Homo sapiens: one gene and its partner. The protein of the gene in region 1 purifies or fractionates together with the protein of each later gene. This does not show direct contact. Each region holds a gene or a part of one and is shown in the gene's direction. Other genes may lie near its edges. The genes, in order: MED25 and CDK8.

Evidence for each region.
Region 2: the proteins of MED25 (region 1) and CDK8 purify together in Homo sapiens (affinity purification with mass spectrometry; 9 studies listed by BioGRID and IntAct, with this or other methods). This does not show direct contact.

What each region holds. Positions count from the first base shown.
Region 1 is NC_000019.10:49,828,248-49,837,114, forward strand, and holds the end of MED25 (mediator of RNA polymerase II transcription subunit 25), read left to right. Parts: intron 1-201; coding exon 202-300; intron 301-722; coding exon 723-843; intron 844-1,538; coding exon 1,539-1,701; intron 1,702-1,840; coding exon 1,841-1,971; intron 1,972-2,263; coding exon 2,264-2,351; intron 2,352-2,446; coding exon 2,447-2,640; intron 2,641-3,085; coding exon 3,086-3,214; intron 3,215-3,688; coding exon 3,689-3,774; exon of another isoform or gene 3,775-3,852; coding exon 3,853-3,910; intron 3,911-4,060; coding exon 4,061-4,168; intron 4,169-6,738; coding exon 6,739-6,930; intron 6,931-7,286; coding exon 7,287-7,358; intron 7,359-7,479; coding exon 7,480-7,698; intron 7,699-7,978; coding exon 7,979-8,159; intron 8,160-8,599; coding exon 8,600-8,697; 3' UTR 8,698-8,732; downstream 8,733-8,867. UniProt on the Homo sapiens protein: Component of the Mediator complex, a coactivator involved in the regulated transcription of nearly all RNA polymerase II-dependent genes.
Region 2 is NC_000013.11:26,396,452-26,405,318, forward strand, and holds the end of CDK8 (cyclin-dependent kinase 8), read left to right. Parts: intron 1-701; coding exon 702-774; intron 775-4,001; coding exon 4,002-4,099; intron 4,100-4,817; coding exon 4,818-4,896; intron 4,897-5,014; coding exon 5,015-5,173; intron 5,174-7,504; coding exon 7,505-7,630; 3' UTR 7,631-8,787; downstream 8,788-8,867.

The sequences.
Region 1 (8,867 bases):
GACAGCAAATGTCCCCTGTCCTGTCTGGGACTGGTGCTGTGCTAGCACCAGGGATTGGGTAGGGAACTCAGCAGGGTCCCCGTCATCCCAAGGTGCATAGCCCAGGATAGAGTGGGGGACAGCATGGGAGCAGGCTCTTCAAGCATAGCCTGGGGATGGGGATGATGGCAACCCTGGGGGCTGACCGCTCTGCCCCTGCAGGTTCATGGGCGGGGGTGGTGAGAGCTGCAGCCTCATCGCGGAAGGACTCAGCACAGCCTTGCAGCTGTTTGATGACTTCAAGAAGATGCGCGAGCAGATGTGAGTGCCCCCTCCACCCAGGCCGGGCCGGTCTCTCTCTGCCTGGCCTGGAACCACTTTGCCTGTCGAGTGGTTCTACCTCCAGCCTCACCCTGTAGGGCATGGGCTCTGTGTCCCCAAGCACGCTGAGCCAGGAGGCTGCAGGTGTGTCCTTGGGGGACGCCTGGCCAGTGCCCGGTCTCAGCATCCCCATCAGGAAGCAGTGCCAACTCTGGGTGTCACTCCTGCCTGCCCTGCCTGCTGGGTGACGTAGAGCACATCCCAGAACCTCTTGGAGCCTCAGTGTTCTCAGCTGTAAAGTAGGGGCGTTGCTTCTGATTCCATGTGAGGCGGAATATGTGCATCTCCGCTGGTGCTGGGTCTGGGTTCCTTCTCAGGGCCTCTGTTGCTGCTGGCTCCATGTCTTCTCTCTTTCCTGGTAGTGGCCAGACGCACCGGGTCTGCCTCCTCATCTGCAACTCACCCCCATACTTGTTGCCTGCTGTTGAGAGCACCACGTACTCTGGATGCACAACTGAGAATCTTGTGCAGCAGATTGGGGAGGTGAGGACTCCAGGGTCTGAGGGACGAGGGTCTGGGGGCCCGGAGTCTTGGGTCTGAGGCAGGAGGCACTGAGGGCCTGGACTCCTGGGTCTGAGGGAGGAGGCACTGGGGGCCTGGACTCTTGGGTCTAAGCGGGGAGGCACTGGGGGCCTGGACTCAGACACAGAATAGTCACAGACTGGTGACCAGCTTTGCTTACTCTCTTTTCGAAACAGTCTGGCTCTGTTACCCAGGCTGGAGTGCAGTGGTGTGATCTTGGCCCACTGCAGCCTCTGCCTCCAGGGTTCAAGCAATTCTCATGTTTCAGCCTCCCGAGTAGCTGGGATTATAGACGCCCGCCACCACGCCCAGCTGATTTTTGTATCTTTAGTAGAGATGAGGTTTCACCATGTTGGCCAGACTGCTCTCAAACTCCTGGCCTCATGTGATCTGCCTGACTCGGTCTCACAAAATCCTGGGATTACAGACGTGAGCCTCCACACCTGGCCCACTTAGTCTTACTGACAAAACTAGAACCCAGAGTCTCCCGGGGCAGGTGATACCTGGTTTCAGGGTCTCCTGCCTCAAAGCCCAATGGGAATTGTGGTTGTAGGGCTGGTGCCGTCCAGCCACACAGCAGTTGTGGTAGGTTGGGGGCCGGCCCCAACACCCTTATGGAGGGGGCCCGTCATGACTGCTCGGCCCCTCTCCTACAGCGGGGGATCCACTTCTCCATTGTGTCTCCCCGGAAGCTGCCTGCGCTTCGGCTTCTGTTTGAGAAGGCAGCCCCCCCGGCCTTGCTGGAGCCGCTGCAGCCTCCGACAGATGTGAGCCAGGACCCGAGGCACATGGTGCTGGTTCGGGGACTCGTGCTGCCTGGTGAGGCCTGGGCACCGTGCGCGGGGATGGGGGCTCGACGTGTTTCCCCAGCTCCCTCTGACTTGGATTTTGGATTTCTCTCCTTTCTCTGCATCTTGAATCCCTTCTCTCTGGGGTTGGCCATCCCTCCTGCTCTCAGTTGGGGGTGGCTCAGCCCCAGGCCCCCTCCAGTCAAAGCAGCCAGTCCCCCTGCCTCCCGCCGCACCCTCAGGTGCCACTCTCTCAGCAGCCCCCCAGCAGCCTCTGCCCCCCGTCCCCCCGCAGTACCAGGTATGGATATTTCCGGGAAGGGACATGCTTCTGGGGACTTGCTGGAGCCCTGGCCCCTGGGGAGAAATCTAGTTGCATGTTGGAGCTTGTGGGATGATGGGAGTCCCATGGGACATTGGGAAGGTGGGACTCTTGGGGCCATGGAAGCTCATGTGCTGTGTGATGGGTGTTGTGAGCTAAGCTATCCCAGCTGGTGCCTCATGGGGCCATGGGTGGTGTGACCTCGTGGGATACCAGGACTGGGGGGCCATGGTCCTCACCAGTCCCTTCCCTTCTTCCCTTCTACCCACAGGTTCCCGGGAACCTGAGTGCAGCTCAGGTGGCCGCGCAGAATGCAGTGGAGGCTGCCAAGAACCAGAAGGCTGGGCTGGGCCCTCGCTGTGAGTCCTGGAGTGAGGATGAAGGGCGGGCAGGGGCCAGGCAGGCCTCTCTCCACACACTTGTTCCCCACTTCTTCCCTTGGTCTCTCCCACAGTCTCGCCCATCACCCCTCTCCAACAAGCTGCTCCCGGAGTGGGTCCCCCCTTCAGCCAGGCCCCAGCTCCCCAACTACCCCCAGGACCCCCTGGCGCCCCCAAGCCACCACCTGCTTCCCAGCCCAGTCTGGTCTCCACTGTGGCCCCTGGCTCCGGCCTGGCTCCCACGGCACAGCCCGGGGCACCGTCCATGGTAGGTGCCTGCACGCCTCCTGCCCCTGCTCCTTCCTCCTGCTGTCCACAGCTAGGACAGTTAGAGGATGAGTCATTTGCCTTCCAGGGGGATGTGGCTCTCGTGGTTCTGGGGCTTTGGGGGCTCGTGGTGTGTGTGCTGCAGATGCCTGAGATGAGGGTCTGGGGACAGAGTGGGGAGGCTCATGGCTCCAGGAGGGTCAGGGCTGTTCCGAGAAACCCAAGGAATCCCTGGGTCTGGGAGTCCAGGGCATCGCACAGCTTACGAGTCCTCGAATCCTGCAAGGTCCAAGCATTTGGGGTCCTGCGGCTGGCCAAGTGCTGTTCTGGGGATGGAGGGGCAGAAGAAGGGATCTTTCCTCCTTCCTGGTTTGCCCTCACAGGATGGCCCCCGGAGGCTCCCGGCCTTCCCCATTCTCATGGCCCTCCTTCCTCCCCTCTGGCAGGCAGGCACTGTGGCCCCAGGAGGGGTGAGCGGCCCTTCCCCAGCCCAGCTGGGAGCCCCAGCCCTCGGTGGGCAGCAGTCAGTCTCCAATAAGCTTCTGGCCTGGAGCGGGGTCCTGGAGTGGCAAGAGGTGAGGGGCCTGAGGGTCCATTGGGCACTTGGGACTCCTGGGGCCGTGGGGCTGGGCATGTAGGACTCATGGGGCCAGATGCGTGGGGTCTGCAGTGCTGGGTTTGGAGGCATTCGTTGCGCTGGACCTGTGGGATGCGGGGCGAGGCCAGGAGCCCCATGGAGTGGTGGGACTTGCGGTACAGAGGAGAGTCCCCATGCAAAGAACCCAGAAAAGCCCAGGATTTGGGGCCCAGAGAAGAGCCCAGGCGATGTATCATCTGGGGCACAGTGGATGGTGGGATTTAGGGGCCGGGCACGTAGCTGTAACATTTGAGGAACTGAAGGCTTGCTGGTCTGGAGGAGGGGCCTGGGGCTCATGGGACTTAAACTGGGGAACATCCTGAGCTTTGGGGCTACCAGGGTAGGACATGAGGGCTCAAGGGGACTGAGGCTTATGGCCCTTTTTACTGACATGCTCTTTTTTCCCCCTCAGAAACCCAAACCTGCCTCAGTGGATGCCAACACCAAGCTGACGCGGTCACTGCCCTGCCAGGTCTACGTGAATCATGGCGAGAACCTGTAGGTGACAGTCAGGGGCGGGGTGTGGTGGGGCTGGGGCTGGCCCCCTCCTCACACCTCTCCTGGCATCGCCCCCAGGAAGACGGAGCAGTGGCCCCAGAAGCTGATCATGCAGCTCATCCCCCAGCAGCTGCTGGTGAGTGGCGGTGGAGGGCCAGCCCTGCTGCCGGGCAGTCCTCACCCTGCTGTCTCTTTCCTGTTCCCTGCCCCACCCCCACTCCCTGCCTCATGTCCCCGCCTCACTTGCCCACACCAGCATGCCAGCCGACTTCTGTGTCTCCCGCAGACCACCCTGGGCCCTTTGTTCCGGAACTCAAGGATGGTCCAGTTCCATTTCACCAACAAGGACCTGGAGTCTCTCAAAGGCCTCTACCGCATCATGGGCAACGGCTTCGTGAGTCCAGGGCATGGGGGGCCGAGGGGTGTTGACTCTTGTCCTGCTTTCTGCTGACCTTTGACGGGAATCCCAGAGTGCCTGGGCCCACGGAAGCCGTTTTTGATGGTTGGGTGCACTTCATGCCCTTAGGTTCCTCGCCTTTCTTCTAGAGCCGTGACTTTTATTATAATCATCGTATGCACCAGATTTGAGGGATATTCCACATTAAAAATGTGAGCTGGATGTGACAGGATCAGTTAGGAGGAAGCTGTTGATTCTGGCATGGCTTTATGGGATGTGTTCATTTCCTGTGGCTGTGGTAACACATTACCACAAGCAGAGGGGCTTAAAACAACAGAAACGTGTTCTATCCCAGTTCTGGAGGCCAGAAGCCCAAGGTCAGGGTGTCAGCAGGGCCACGCTCTCTCTAGAGGCTGGAGGGAAGGCCTCTTCGTTGCCTCTTCCGGCCGGTAACCCCAGGCTTCAGGTGGCATCGCTCCAGGGTCTTCCTCCATCCCGCAGCTGTCTTCCCTCTGTGTGTGTCTCCACATGGCATTCTCTCTGTATCTTTGTGTCTGTGCTTATAAGGACATCAGTAATTTTGGATTAGGCCCCATTTTCCTGACCTCATCTTACTACAATTGCAAAGACCCTCTTTCCAGATAGAGTCACCTTCACAGGTGCTGGGGACTGGAACCTCAGCTTAGCTTTCTGGTTTTGTTTTTTGAGACAGAGTTTCACTGTTGTCAGCCAGGCTGGAGTGCAGTGGTGCAATCTTGGCTCACAGCAACTTCCGTCTCCTGGGTTCAAGCGATTCTCCTGCCTCAGCCTCCCAAGTAGCTGGGATTACAGGCATGTGCCACTATGCCCAGCTAATTTCTGTATTTTTTAGTAGAGACAGGGTTTCACCATGTTGGCCAGGTTGGTCTCGAACTTCTGACCTCAAGTGATCTGCCTGCCTCGGCCTCCCAAAGTGCTAGGATTACCGGTGTGAGCCACCGCGCCCAGCCTCAGCATAGCTTTCTGGGAGTCACAGTTCACACTTTGTAACTCGGGGAAGGAGCAGATCAGTTACTTCCGTGCACCAGGCACTCCTGCAGGAAAGAGAACCTTAGGGGGATCACCTCACGAGACCCTCACAGAACCTTGTGAAGAAGGCATTCCTGAGAGTTAGTACTTCCGGCTGCAAATCACGTAGTTTCCCAAACACATAGATAATTGGGGGCACTCGGAAAAAATGTTCTCTTATGATTCTGTGGGTCACCTGGGCTCAGTGGGCCATCTCGCTTGGCGACTCTCACGGGGTTGCCATCAGATGGCAGCTGAGACTCTGGTCATCTGAAACCTTTACTGGGCTGGATGTTCAAAACAGCTCCTCACACAGCCCTGGCTGTTGGCTGGGGCTTGGCTAGGACCGGCCATCCCAGTGTCTGCACATGGCCTGTCCACGTGGCCACACTGTGGCAGCTGGGTTCTGAGAGGGCAGGCGTTGTAGGAGCAGGCATTTATATTTTGCACAGGACAGGACATCTAGAGGGGGCCAGCTATTGGGATTGGTTTCATAGGTCTGTGACATCAGGGACAGGGCCCTGTGGTTCTCTTGGCCTCTCCTTTATAGTCACAAGGTAGCTCTCATGGCTCCACGCATCCTGTGTGCTTTCATGAAGGAGGGGAAGGGGGCTGTGTGTTTCCCTTTCTTCAAGACAGCAGAAACTTTCTCAGATTCCAGAGCAGGCATTCCTTTCACCTCCTATCCCGGACCTAGGCCACTGGGCAGCCCCTAGTTGATGGGAGGCTGCTGGGAGCAGGTATCCGTGACTGTCTGGGGCTGGGACATGTTACAGCCCCAGACAGCATTGGGAATGCAGGGGAGGAGGACACTTGGATATGGAATAGGCAGCTAGCAGGGTCTGTCTCAGGCAGGAAACCGAGGCTCAGAGAAGTCAATTCACTTGGCCAAGGTCAGCCTCGCCTCCCTCAGGAGCCCCTGCCCTGAATGCTCCATGTGTTACCCCCCTGATGACCAGTGATGTTTCCTGGGTGCTTCCTGTGGGCTGAGCCTCAGGCAGGGCTCTTGCTGTGGATCAGACATCGCATAGTCACAGCGACCCTGTGATGTGGGAGCACTCCCCGTGGTGTACACTGGCCGGTGCTGAGGGCTGGAGGATCTCTTGGATACCCGGGGTCCGACCCACCGTTGATCACAGGCCTGTGGGTACCACGCTGTGCATCTAGGCCGCTCTCCCGGCCGTGACCCTCAGCCGCCCTCTGAGGAGGCCGCCGTGGCATTTTATGCCCAAGAAACTGGGTCCATGAGGAGCAGGTGGTGGCTGAAGGTTGAAGAGCTGGGCTCCAGCACTTTCTCTCCGCTTTCCCTCTCAGTGGGCAGCTGGAACCCTAGCTTGCCCTGAGCGCCTCAGTTTCTGTCTCCAGAGCAACCCATAGCACACCTGTTCTCCTTAACCTTCTATAGCAGAAACCTCACCTCACCTTGCCTGTGGGGCCTCTAGAGCCTTCTGGAATGGGGAGGGGGTCAGGGCTGCCTCTTTCAGGGCCTGAATGGTTCTGAAGAGCTGTTGTCCACCCAGGCGGGCTGCGTGCACTTCCCCCACACGGCGCCCTGTGAGGTGCGCGTGCTCATGCTCCTGTACTCGTCCAAGAAGAAGATCTTCATGGGCCTCATCCCCTACGACCAGAGCGGCTTCGTCAACGGCATCCGGCAGGTCATCACCAACCACAAGCAGGTCCAGCAGCAGAAGCTGGAGCAGCAGCAGCGAGGAGTGAGTGTTGACAGTCCCCAAACCAGCACTCCGACCCCCTCCTGCCCGGGCCCCACATGGCCCCCTGGGGTCTCCAGGACCAAGATGCCCACCCTTCTCCCAATATGTGGTGCCTCCAAGCTAAGTCCCACTCAGATTTTCTTGCAGTCTCTCTCCTTTTTCAGCATCCACATCAAAGCCCTGACACAGCTTCCTCCTGGAGACCTTGGAGTGTACGGCATCCCTCCCAGACCACTCACCCCCAAAGAGAATGTCCCCATCTCCTTACTAGTTCCCCTCAGGGCACAGGCCCTCCCGCCTCAGATTCAGGATGCCACCACCCTCAGTTACTGACCTGCCCCTCTCTCCCCGTGCAGATGGGGGGACAGCAGGCACCCCCAGGGCTGGGGCCCATTCTGGAGGACCAAGCCAGGCCCTCACAGAATCTGGTGAGGACAGGGCTGGCGGGGTCGGGGCTGGGTTGGGGAGGCCCCAAGGCTGCGCTCTGTGCCTGCAGAAGGGGCGTGAGGCCCTGCCCATCTCCCTCACCCCTGTGTCTCTTCCCACCAGCTCCAGCTCCGCCCACCGCAGCCCCAGCCTCAGGGTACCGTAGGGGCCTCTGGGGCCACGGGGCAGCCCCAGCCCCAAGGTACTGCCCAGCCCCCGCCAGGTGCCCCTCAAGGCCCTCCTGGAGCAGCTTCTGGCCCACCCCCTCCTGGACCCATCCTTCGGCCCCAGAACCCTGGGGCCAACCCTCAGCTGCGAAGCCTCCTCCTCAACCCACCACCGGTGAGATGTTGGGGTGGGGTAGCGAGAGTTCCAGATCCTGGCCCTGGTGGTTCTGGTCCTGTTGTCTGGGAGGAGGGAGGTTGACTGTGGTCAGTGGGTGTGAATGGGGACCCGCCCAGGGCTTTAGGCAGAAGGCAGACCGCCTCCTCTCCGTCCATCCCCCACCTTTGAAGAAAAACTTCCCCTCACCACTAGCTGATTCCATCTCTGAGCAGTGTCTGTGTTGAGAGGTGGGGAGTCTCTACCAGGAGCCTCTGAGCCACTCTCTGTGTTCTCCCAGCCGCAGACTGGGGTGCCCCCACCCCAGGCCTCCCTCCACCACCTCCAGCCACCAGGGGCTCCTGCGCTGCTGCCTCCGCCGCACCAGGGCCTGGGGCAGCCCCAGTTGGGGCCCCCACTCCTGCATCCACCACCTGCCCAGTCCTGGCCCGCACAACTTCCCCCTCGGGCTCCACTGCCAGGTAAGGGGACCCGGGGGAGGGCAGAGGTCTGGACTGAGTGTCCCAGCAGCTCCTGGGCTAGAGCACCAAGACCGAGTGCTCCTGGGAAGTAAAGACATAGGATCCAAGAATGAGGGTTCCCCCATGGCCTTTGCGGAGCTCTGAGGGCTCCGGGAAAGTACAGCCCATGGGTCCAAGGACCTAGTGGGTTAAGAGCGTTTCCCATGATCCTCCTGTGTGTGCTCCTGGGATTGCTGGGAAATGTGGTCTTAGGGCCAGAGAAGTAGTTTTGGAGAAGGGCCCCCAAAGGCTCATGGGAAACAGCATATTTGTAACTAGATGGGGCCAGAAGGTGCTTCTGTTGGGTCCCCCAAGGGCTGCCTAGAAAACTTAGTGCCTCTGGGCCCTCCTGGGCCCAAGGGCCTACTGGGAGATGCAGTCCCTTCCCCACTGCCCCTCAGGTCAGATGCTGCTGAGCGGGGGTCCCCGGGGCCCGGTCCCCCAGCCGGGCCTGCAGCCCAGCGTCATGGAGGACGACATCCTCATGGATCTCATCTGAATCCCCAACACCCAATAAAGTTCCTTTTTAACACACGCCCCGGCTCCCGTCACTGACATCCCTCAGGACTGGGCAGGAGGAAACCCCAGGGGGCATCTCTGTCCTTGTTCTCACTTCAGCAGACATCCCTGGGGCCCTGGGTGAATGACGCTGGGGCCTCCGTGGTGAGT
Region 2 (8,867 bases), on another chromosome or scaffold:
ATTACTCTAATAAATAATTTTACTTATTTACTCTAATAAATATTTTTCATGATGACAGTCTTTATTTCTTAAGATGCTTAAATGATTATATACAAAAGTGACTAATATTAGCAGCTGATTTGGATATAAAACAAATTCATGTCTTTCCATATTGACTACTTTTTGGAAGCTAGACATTAGTGAGAAGTATCACAGCTGAATAAATAAGAATCTAAATAAATAAACTTTGGTAATAGCCACTTGCTCACCAATCTAGGTTACAGTAATTTTAAGCAGGTTTTAACAGAGAAGAATGGATATTTCACCTGTTTACAATGCAAAGCCAGGGATTGGGAGAGTTTAGTTTGTATACCTATGACAAAAGTATTTTACACTTATTGGTAAGGCTGAATTAAACTTTTGACCCAGATGTTATTTAAAATAATTGTTAAAATATAATTCATGTGAAAAAAAAAGCTGTTTAGTGTCTGTTATTCATGAAATTGTCTTACATTTAATCATCGGTATCCTTTCAAAAGTGACCATTGTGGATATTGAATGAAATAGAAAACTGATTTAATTCTACTCATTTTATGCTCATAGTGTTTTCAATATATATTTTATATCGGTTATGATCAAAATAATTCTCATCAGAAGGACTTTAGCCAATGTACAATTAACCTCAAGTCTAATATAGCTATTTCATAGTATTTCTCTTTCAGGTATACCAACTGCAGCCTTATCAAGTATATGGAAAAACATAAAGTTAAACCAGATAGTAAAGCATTCCACTTGGTAAGCATTGGTTAACAGTATTAATGAAATGCATTTTTTCCTTAATTGACTAGCCCAACTGAGGCTTTTTTGGATCAATTTATGTGGTTACTTAGCTAGCACTCAGAGTGCTTTCATGGTAAATGCAGAGATCTTGTTAGTGCATACCAATAAAGACAATAAACTATTTGCTCTTCCAGACTCATATCATGGTTTGACAGACTAATGTTTGGTCACATTAGATTTTCTAAAGATAGCGATGGTAACAAATCTGTCAAAACATTTATAAAATTACATGTATTGTTTTTCGTCTGTTTAAGATTTTAAAAGTTCCAGAGAAGTATCAAGAAGAAAGTACTTCTCACCATTGATAAATAGATTGTTTTGTATTTCAGCTCTTTGAAAGACTGTTTACAAAGTTCTTAATTTCCAAAATACCTCTTATAACCTTAAATGTTAACAGTCATTCAGCGATTATATGTGCTATTTGATTTTTCTGGAAGAATGTGATAGATGCCATATTTATCAGTGTGTAATGGAAAAATGATTTAACCTAGAATCTAATTGAATCCGTGCACTAACAAGGTAATTTGTGATGAAATTATATACAGCCATTACCAACTTTGTTTACAATAAAATTTCCATTGTTACAGCGTAATAATTAATAATGTTTTTTGTTTTAGAAAAAGGTTTATAACACATAGAAGGGGAGTTTGGGGAAGCAGGTTGTATTTTGCTTGGCTTGAAATTCTTTTAATCCTTATTCCTAAGTTCTTAAATGAGAATTCTTTCACCTTGAAGAGGTTAACCTTTCCTTTATTGCAACCAGGCCATTTGGCAAACATTTCTTCTGTTCTTCCTTTGTTTCTCCTTTTTCTTCGCTTTCTACTGCTTCTCCTTCTGTATTTTCTACTTACTATTATATCAGTTCACATTTTATATCATGTATTTCATATCTTAACAGCAATTTAAAAAGTCATTCTTAACCTGTCATATTACCACACAATATATTATCCAGATAATGGTTTATTATAATGTACTTACAGTAGGACCCAAATTAGAGGTCTAAGTTAGATCCTTCGAAATTATGGACTTACTGATTCTAATAAAATAATGATAGTGGCAGAAGATTAGAAGTCATGACTTAGGGGAATTATTATTCTCCTTGATTCCCTGCTACTCATTATAGTCTAGGATGACTCTGCCTACCATCACCACTAAAACTCTAGAGATATACCTTCCTTGTAGCTTATGTGCTTGTTTTTACCAGGGTGACCCATCTTAATTGGAGGTAATCTTGAGTAGTCTCTTAGGAAAGCCCTATTATAATTCCATTAAAACTGTTGGGTATTTTCAATAGCAAATTCAGGCCTTTCCTTTCAACCCTAAAAATAAAATTGTGCTTTCTCTGAAATATCAGATCATTAAAATTAAATTTTAATCTCACCATTCTAGCGTTTTATTTGCATCTTAAAATATGTCGTGTCGGCCTGGCGTGGTAGCTCACGCCTGTGATCCCAGCACTTTGGGAGGCCGAGGCGGGCGGATCACAAGGTCAGGAGATTGAGACCATCCTGGCCAATGTGGTGAAACTCCTAAAAATACAAAAAGTAGCTGAGTGTGGTGGTACATGCCTGTAGTCCCAGCTACTCGGGAGGTTGAGGCAGGAGAATCGCTTGAACCCAGGAGGTGGAGGTTGCAGTGAGCCTAGATCGTGCCACTGCACTCTAGCCTGGCAACAAAGCAAGACTCTATCTCAAAAAAAAAAAAAAATGTCTTTTTATCCTGTAAAATTTGTCATCTTTCTTTAAGTCTTTTTTGTTGGAGACACAGTTTCATTGTGTCACCAGGCTAGAGTGCAGTGGTGTGATCTTGGCTCACTGCAACCTCTGCCTCCCAGGTTCAAGCCATTCTCATGCCTCAGCCTCCCGAGTACCTGGGATTACAGGCGCCTGCCACCACACCCAGCTAATTTTTGTATTATTAGTAGAGATGGGGTTTCACCATGTTGACCAGGCTGGTCTCGAACTCCTGACCTCAGGTGATCCATCCACCTTGGCCTCCCAAAGTGCTGGGATTACAGGTGTGAGCCACCACACCTGGCCTCTCTTTTAAGTCTTAATGTGTCTGTTAGTTCATTGGTTTTCAAAATGCAGTCTCAGTCCAGCAGCATGGTATCATGTAGGGCCATGTTGGAAATGCAGGCTTTTGGCTCCTACTCACATCTACCAATCAGAAACTCTGTGAGGAGGGCCCAGCAGTCTGTTTTAAGAAGTTCTCCAGGTGATTCTCATGCATCCTAAAGTCCGAAAGCCACTGCATTAGATCAGAGTATAAACTAAGAGACCACATATTAGAATCCAATTGAATGAACTATGTCTTAACTAAAAAATACTGAATCTTCACATTAGTGTGGCATTTATAGTAATAATAACAATAAGAGCAAGCACTTACATAGTACTTTCTTTATGCTAGGCACCATTATAATTGCTCTCCATATATTAACTCATTTAATCCTGAAAACAACCTGTGATAATAGTCACCATTTTTAATCTCCATTTGACAAATGAGGTAACAAAAATATTAAGGTAACTTATCCAATGTCACGCAGCTAATAAATGTTGAGTCAGGATTTGAATGGAGCAGTCGACTTTCAGAGTCTCTGCTCATCACACAGCTCTGTACTTTGTAAGTTGTGTATCACCATTTTTATTTAGACTAGAACAGCACTGCACAGTACCACTTTCTGTGATGATCTGCACAGTGCAGTAGCGTAGCCACTAGCCACATTTGGCTCTTGAAATGTGCCTGGTGTAATGGGGAGATTGACTTTTTTATTTAATTCAGTTTTGATTAACTTGGATCTAAATATGAATCACTGCATGTGTTAGTGTATTATATGTGTAACAACAGCTTTTTTATCTTAATAGAAAAAGAATAGAAAATACACAAATTTTGGTCCTGTTCTAAATTGGATAAAGCCATTTAGATAATGGGGGTGGGGATCCATTTGTTTAGTCAGAGAACATAAGCAAGAGTAAAACAAGTGAGATTATGAAACTGGAATGACTAAAGTGTGAATTACTACATTAAATTTAACAACTAGGAGTTTTGTTGTTAATTTGGGGGAATAAATATTTTCCAAATTGTGATGTTATTCACCAAAAAATATATATCGTCTTCACATATGTGCTGAAAGATAACTGTGAGAAGCAATACCGTCATGTTTGTATGATTTGTGATTTCAGCTTCAGAAGCTGCTTACCATGGACCCAATAAAGCGAATTACCTCAGAACAGGCTATGCAGGACCCCTATTTCTTAGAAGACCCACTTCCTACATCAGAGTAAGTGGCCTAGTTGGTTAACTCATCAGCATGATGGAAGTTTTGGAGTATGCTTTCTTCTGCTTGTCAGCTCTTAAGTTGCTCCTCCTCTTATATGGGAACCCAAGGAAATCCTTTATGACAAGCAAAAATGAGCTTTGCTGATTAAAGTGTCATTTAGGGGCTTTCCAGTTAAGAGGCATTCCTGTTCATCTCTTGCTTTATGAAATGCTGATCACATTAGTTTCAGTAGTGATCCAGCTATTCAGTGACAGGTTGGTTATGCGTGCTGTAGCTCCTTACTGTCTGCAGTTACAGTTTCATGTTCCAAAATTGCAAATATTCCCAAATGTGTTCCCTATACCATCTTTTGTTTTGTTAATAAATGTAGTAGGAAGGGTAAAACAAAAATTACCTTTGAATGGTGACACATACTTCAGCTAGAATCTATATTTGGTCTGTATTAATAGAAGAGTAATGCTGGGATAAAAGAAGAAAGCTGAATCATACTCGATGATTATTGATCATTTGTATACAGCTCAAGCCCTCAAGTAGCCTGCTGTAATATTACTAGTTACAAAGAAAAGATTCGTTTTGTCACAGTTACATGAAAGGTGCTTATATTTGCAAATATGGAGACAAAGTTCATCTTAAAAGATTAAAATGAGAATCTCCTAAATGAAGCATTTGGAATATTGATTAGTATACCAGAAATGGTTTTTCTTTTTCTTATGATCAGCGTTTTTGCCGGTTGTCAAATCCCTTACCCAAAACGAGAATTTTTAACGGAAGAAGAACCTGATGACAAAGGAGACAAAGTAAGTATTAAAGTACTGTTAGCAGCTTCTTGTTTCGTGAATGCCTCCATAACATTTTCCATTGTGGGTATATTTTGTTCTCCCTCTGAGCTGAACTTTTTCTGTTTAACCAATTGAGAAGAACCAGCAGCAGCAGCAGGGCAATAACCACACTAATGGAACTGGCCACCCAGGGAATCAAGACAGCAGTCACACACAGGGACCCCCGTTGAAGAAAGTGAGAGTTGTTCCTCCTACCACTACCTCAGGTGGACTTATCATGACCTCAGACTATCAGGTATTCCAAGTTTATTTTGTATTGACTGCATGTCAGTGTTTACATATGGGTTTATGATCGTGGGAAAATGTGATTTAATTGAGAAATACTGACGTCTGTATACCCAGGGAAATACATTAACATGAAATGTTACTGGCATGGAAAAGTACTGACAGTGGTATGGTAGCAAGGGTTTAGACTTTTGAACCAGACTTGGAATGATCAAATACAAATTATGCCATTTATTAACTGTGTGACCTTGGACAAGTAGGATAATATCTCCTGGCGTTTTTTCATCTGTAAAATGAAACTAGTAAAACCTAACTTGCAGCTGTTGTCAGATTAGACATGAAGTGGCTTGACACCTAGCTTATGGTAGGAGCTTGATAGCTATTGTTTTGGAACAATGTTTCACAGTGATTAAGAACATAGGCTTTCAGATCCCAGTCTGGCCACTTACTTCTCTGTATCCTTGAGTAAGTGATTCAGATGTTCTCAGTTTCCATTTGTAGACTGGATAATGATCAATGTGAAGCTGTAGTAAGGATTAAATGAGATAACTCTGGGAGGTTAAGTGTTGCAGCCATTTCAGGAAACTGAGGCTTGTAGAGGTTAAATAACTTTCACATGGATCCCCAGCAAGCTGTAGATGCAGGACTCATATTTGATCTGACCACAAAGGCTGTTATGTTGCCTGCTTAGGGATCCTATCATGGCATTGTCAGTTACGTTGTGGAAAGACCCTCTTTGAAAATTGTATACCACCTCCTTTTCTCTTCTGCTTATTCTAACCATATTCCCAACTACACAAGGGTTCAGTGTGGGAAGGATACTGAAAATCTGACCAATTAGAATTATTTACACACAAAAAAAAAGAGAGAGAGAAAGAGATGTTATTAAACTGATAAGGTCCCGAGTGCTCGTTACTGTACTTTCAGAATTAGGTATTAACTCTTTCTTTTGGTTAGGGGAGAAGTCCAGCCCATCACACCATGGAAATCACTGTTGTGTGAGTAGTAATTCTCTTCCAGTTAGCTAAACAAGGACACCAAGGGCAGACAGCTGTGGGAGTTGTTGGTTCCAGTATCTTTTTCTTCCTTTCCGGATGGGAAGAGTGCATCTCTCTTGGCCCACAAATGTGTTTGCACACTAAGGTGATGGCATCCTTAGAAGGAAGCAGAGCAGTGCTCTGACCTTCGCTTCTGGAACCGAGAAAATGATGCCATGCTGCTTTGTTGGTGTGATTGTTGTTGGTTTTTTGTGGATGAATTTTAAAATAGTATTTGTGACTATCATTTCATGTGTCCACTCTTTTTAAAAATGTTACCTTTTCTAGGATTGGCAGAATTTGGAATTATATGTCTTATTAAATATGCTTTGAAAGACAGAAGTAATAAGTTCTGGTTAATCTTTTATAGTGTTTGTCTTGGGAGCAAATAGTATGAGAGAGAGGTGTGAGAATGGGAATAATAATCTAACATATCAAAATTAGAGAACCCCAAACCATCACATTCTTTCTCTTTGTGCCATTTTAGAATTGAGAATACCGTCCTTCTTACTGTGGTTATATTTTTACTTTTGTATATAAACTTGTAGCAGAAAATAAGATTCAGTAGCTTAAAGGGGCCAGGCACTGTGGCTCATGCCCGTAATCCCAGTGGTTTAGAAGGCTGAGGGGAAGGATCACTTGAGGCCTGGAGTTTGAAATCAACCTGGGCAACATAGCAAGACTCTGTTCCTTCAAAAAAAATTTTTAAAAATTAGCTGAGCATGGAGGTGCATGCCTATAATCCTAGCAATGATTATACCATTACACTCCAGCCTGGATGATAGAGTGACACCCTGTCTCAAAAGAAAAAAAAAATAGTTTAAAGGGCATAAAAATGTATTAATGCCAAAGAAATGGATTCTGTGATACCTTCTCCTATCATACTCACTTTTACTCTTCAGTCATGTGTGTGGGGGTGAGTTTTCTACTGAAGAAAGCATGTAAATAAGCTTTGAATTTTTTATGTATACATCATTAAGTTTCTGGGTAAACATCTCAAGCAAATTTACCAAGTAGATACAAAACAGCATAAAAAGGGGTTACTCCTGTAGAAAAAAATGTATTTGCACAGCATAGTAATAAGCCTAGGCTTAATATTATTTACTAGCAATATTTCTGACCTTCCTCAAGAGAAGAGGATGTTAAAATATTTGGGGTTTTTGTCTTTAATTATAAAGTTAGTACATAGCACAAAACCTATACATCCTTTCTTCCTTGAAACATAATGACACTTCAGTCACATATTGGGATTGAGCTTCCCCTAGAAGCACCTGAATCACACTTTTCCCTCATCTCCTTTCCAGCGTTCCAATCCACATGCTGCCTATCCCAACCCTGGACCAAGCACATCACAGCCGCAGAGCAGCATGGGATACTCAGCTACCTCCCAGCAGCCTCCACAGTACTCACATCAGACACATCGGTACTGAGCTGCATCGGAATCTTGTCCATGCACTGTTGCGAATGCTGCAGGGCTGACTGTGCAGCTCTCTGCGGGAACCTGGTATGGGCCATGAGAATGTACTGTACAACCACATCTTCAAAATGTCCAGTAGCCAAGTTCCACCACTTTTCACAGATTGGGGTAGTGGCTTCCAAGTTGTACCTATTTTGGAGTTAGACTTGAAAAGAAAGTGCTAGCACAGTTTGTGTTGTGGATTTGCTACTTCCATAGTTTACTTGACATGGTTCAGACTGACCAATGCATTTTTTTCAGTGACAGTCTGTAGCAGTTGAAGCTGTGAATGTGCTAGGGGCAAGCATTTGTCTTTGTATGTGGTGAATTTTTTCAGTGTAACAACATTATCTGACCAATAGTACACACACAGACACAAAGTTTAACTGGTACTTGAAACATACAGTATATGTTAACGAAATAACCAAGACTCGAAATGAGATTATTTTGGTACACCTTTCTTTTTAGTGTCTTATCAGTGGGCTGATTCATTTTCTACATTAATCAGTGTTTTCTGACCAAGAATATTGCTTGGATTTTTTTGAAAGTACAAAAAGCCACATAGTTTTTCCAGAAAGGTTTCAAAACTCCCAAAGATTAACTTCCAACTTATAAGTTTGTTTTTATTTTCAATCTATGACTTGACTGGTATTAAAGCTGCTATTTGATAGTAATTAAATATGTTGTCATTGATATAAACCTGTTTGGTTCAGCAAACAAACTAAAATGATTGTCATAGACAGTGTTTTATTTTTCCTGTTGGTGTTGCTGATTTGTGAGCATGCTTTAAGATGAAAAAAGCATGAATGATAACTTCCTTAAAAAGGTGCGGCATCCAATTCAAATATTTTCGTCCTGATTTTAAAGCTGGTTGGTGTAGTGCTATTAAAATTTCGTTCAGTTAATTTTCCTTTTGAAAACTTGTTCGCACGTTGTTTAGGGTGCCCTTACTTCAGCAAAGGAGAAGGAGTAGGAGAGCCTTAGAATTTTTGAGGAAAAAAAAACCTATAACATACAATGTACTGTATCAAACTATTTTACATGAATGACACAAGTATTCTGAATAAAAAATAATTGAACATTGTTAAAAACAAGGTGTTATGTAATAAATTTATTTTTCATAAATCAAAACATGGAGTCAGCTGTCTTTTTTATATGTACAAAGGGTTTTTGTTTTAATTTTAAAATATGCCTTAATAAGTAGCCTCTGA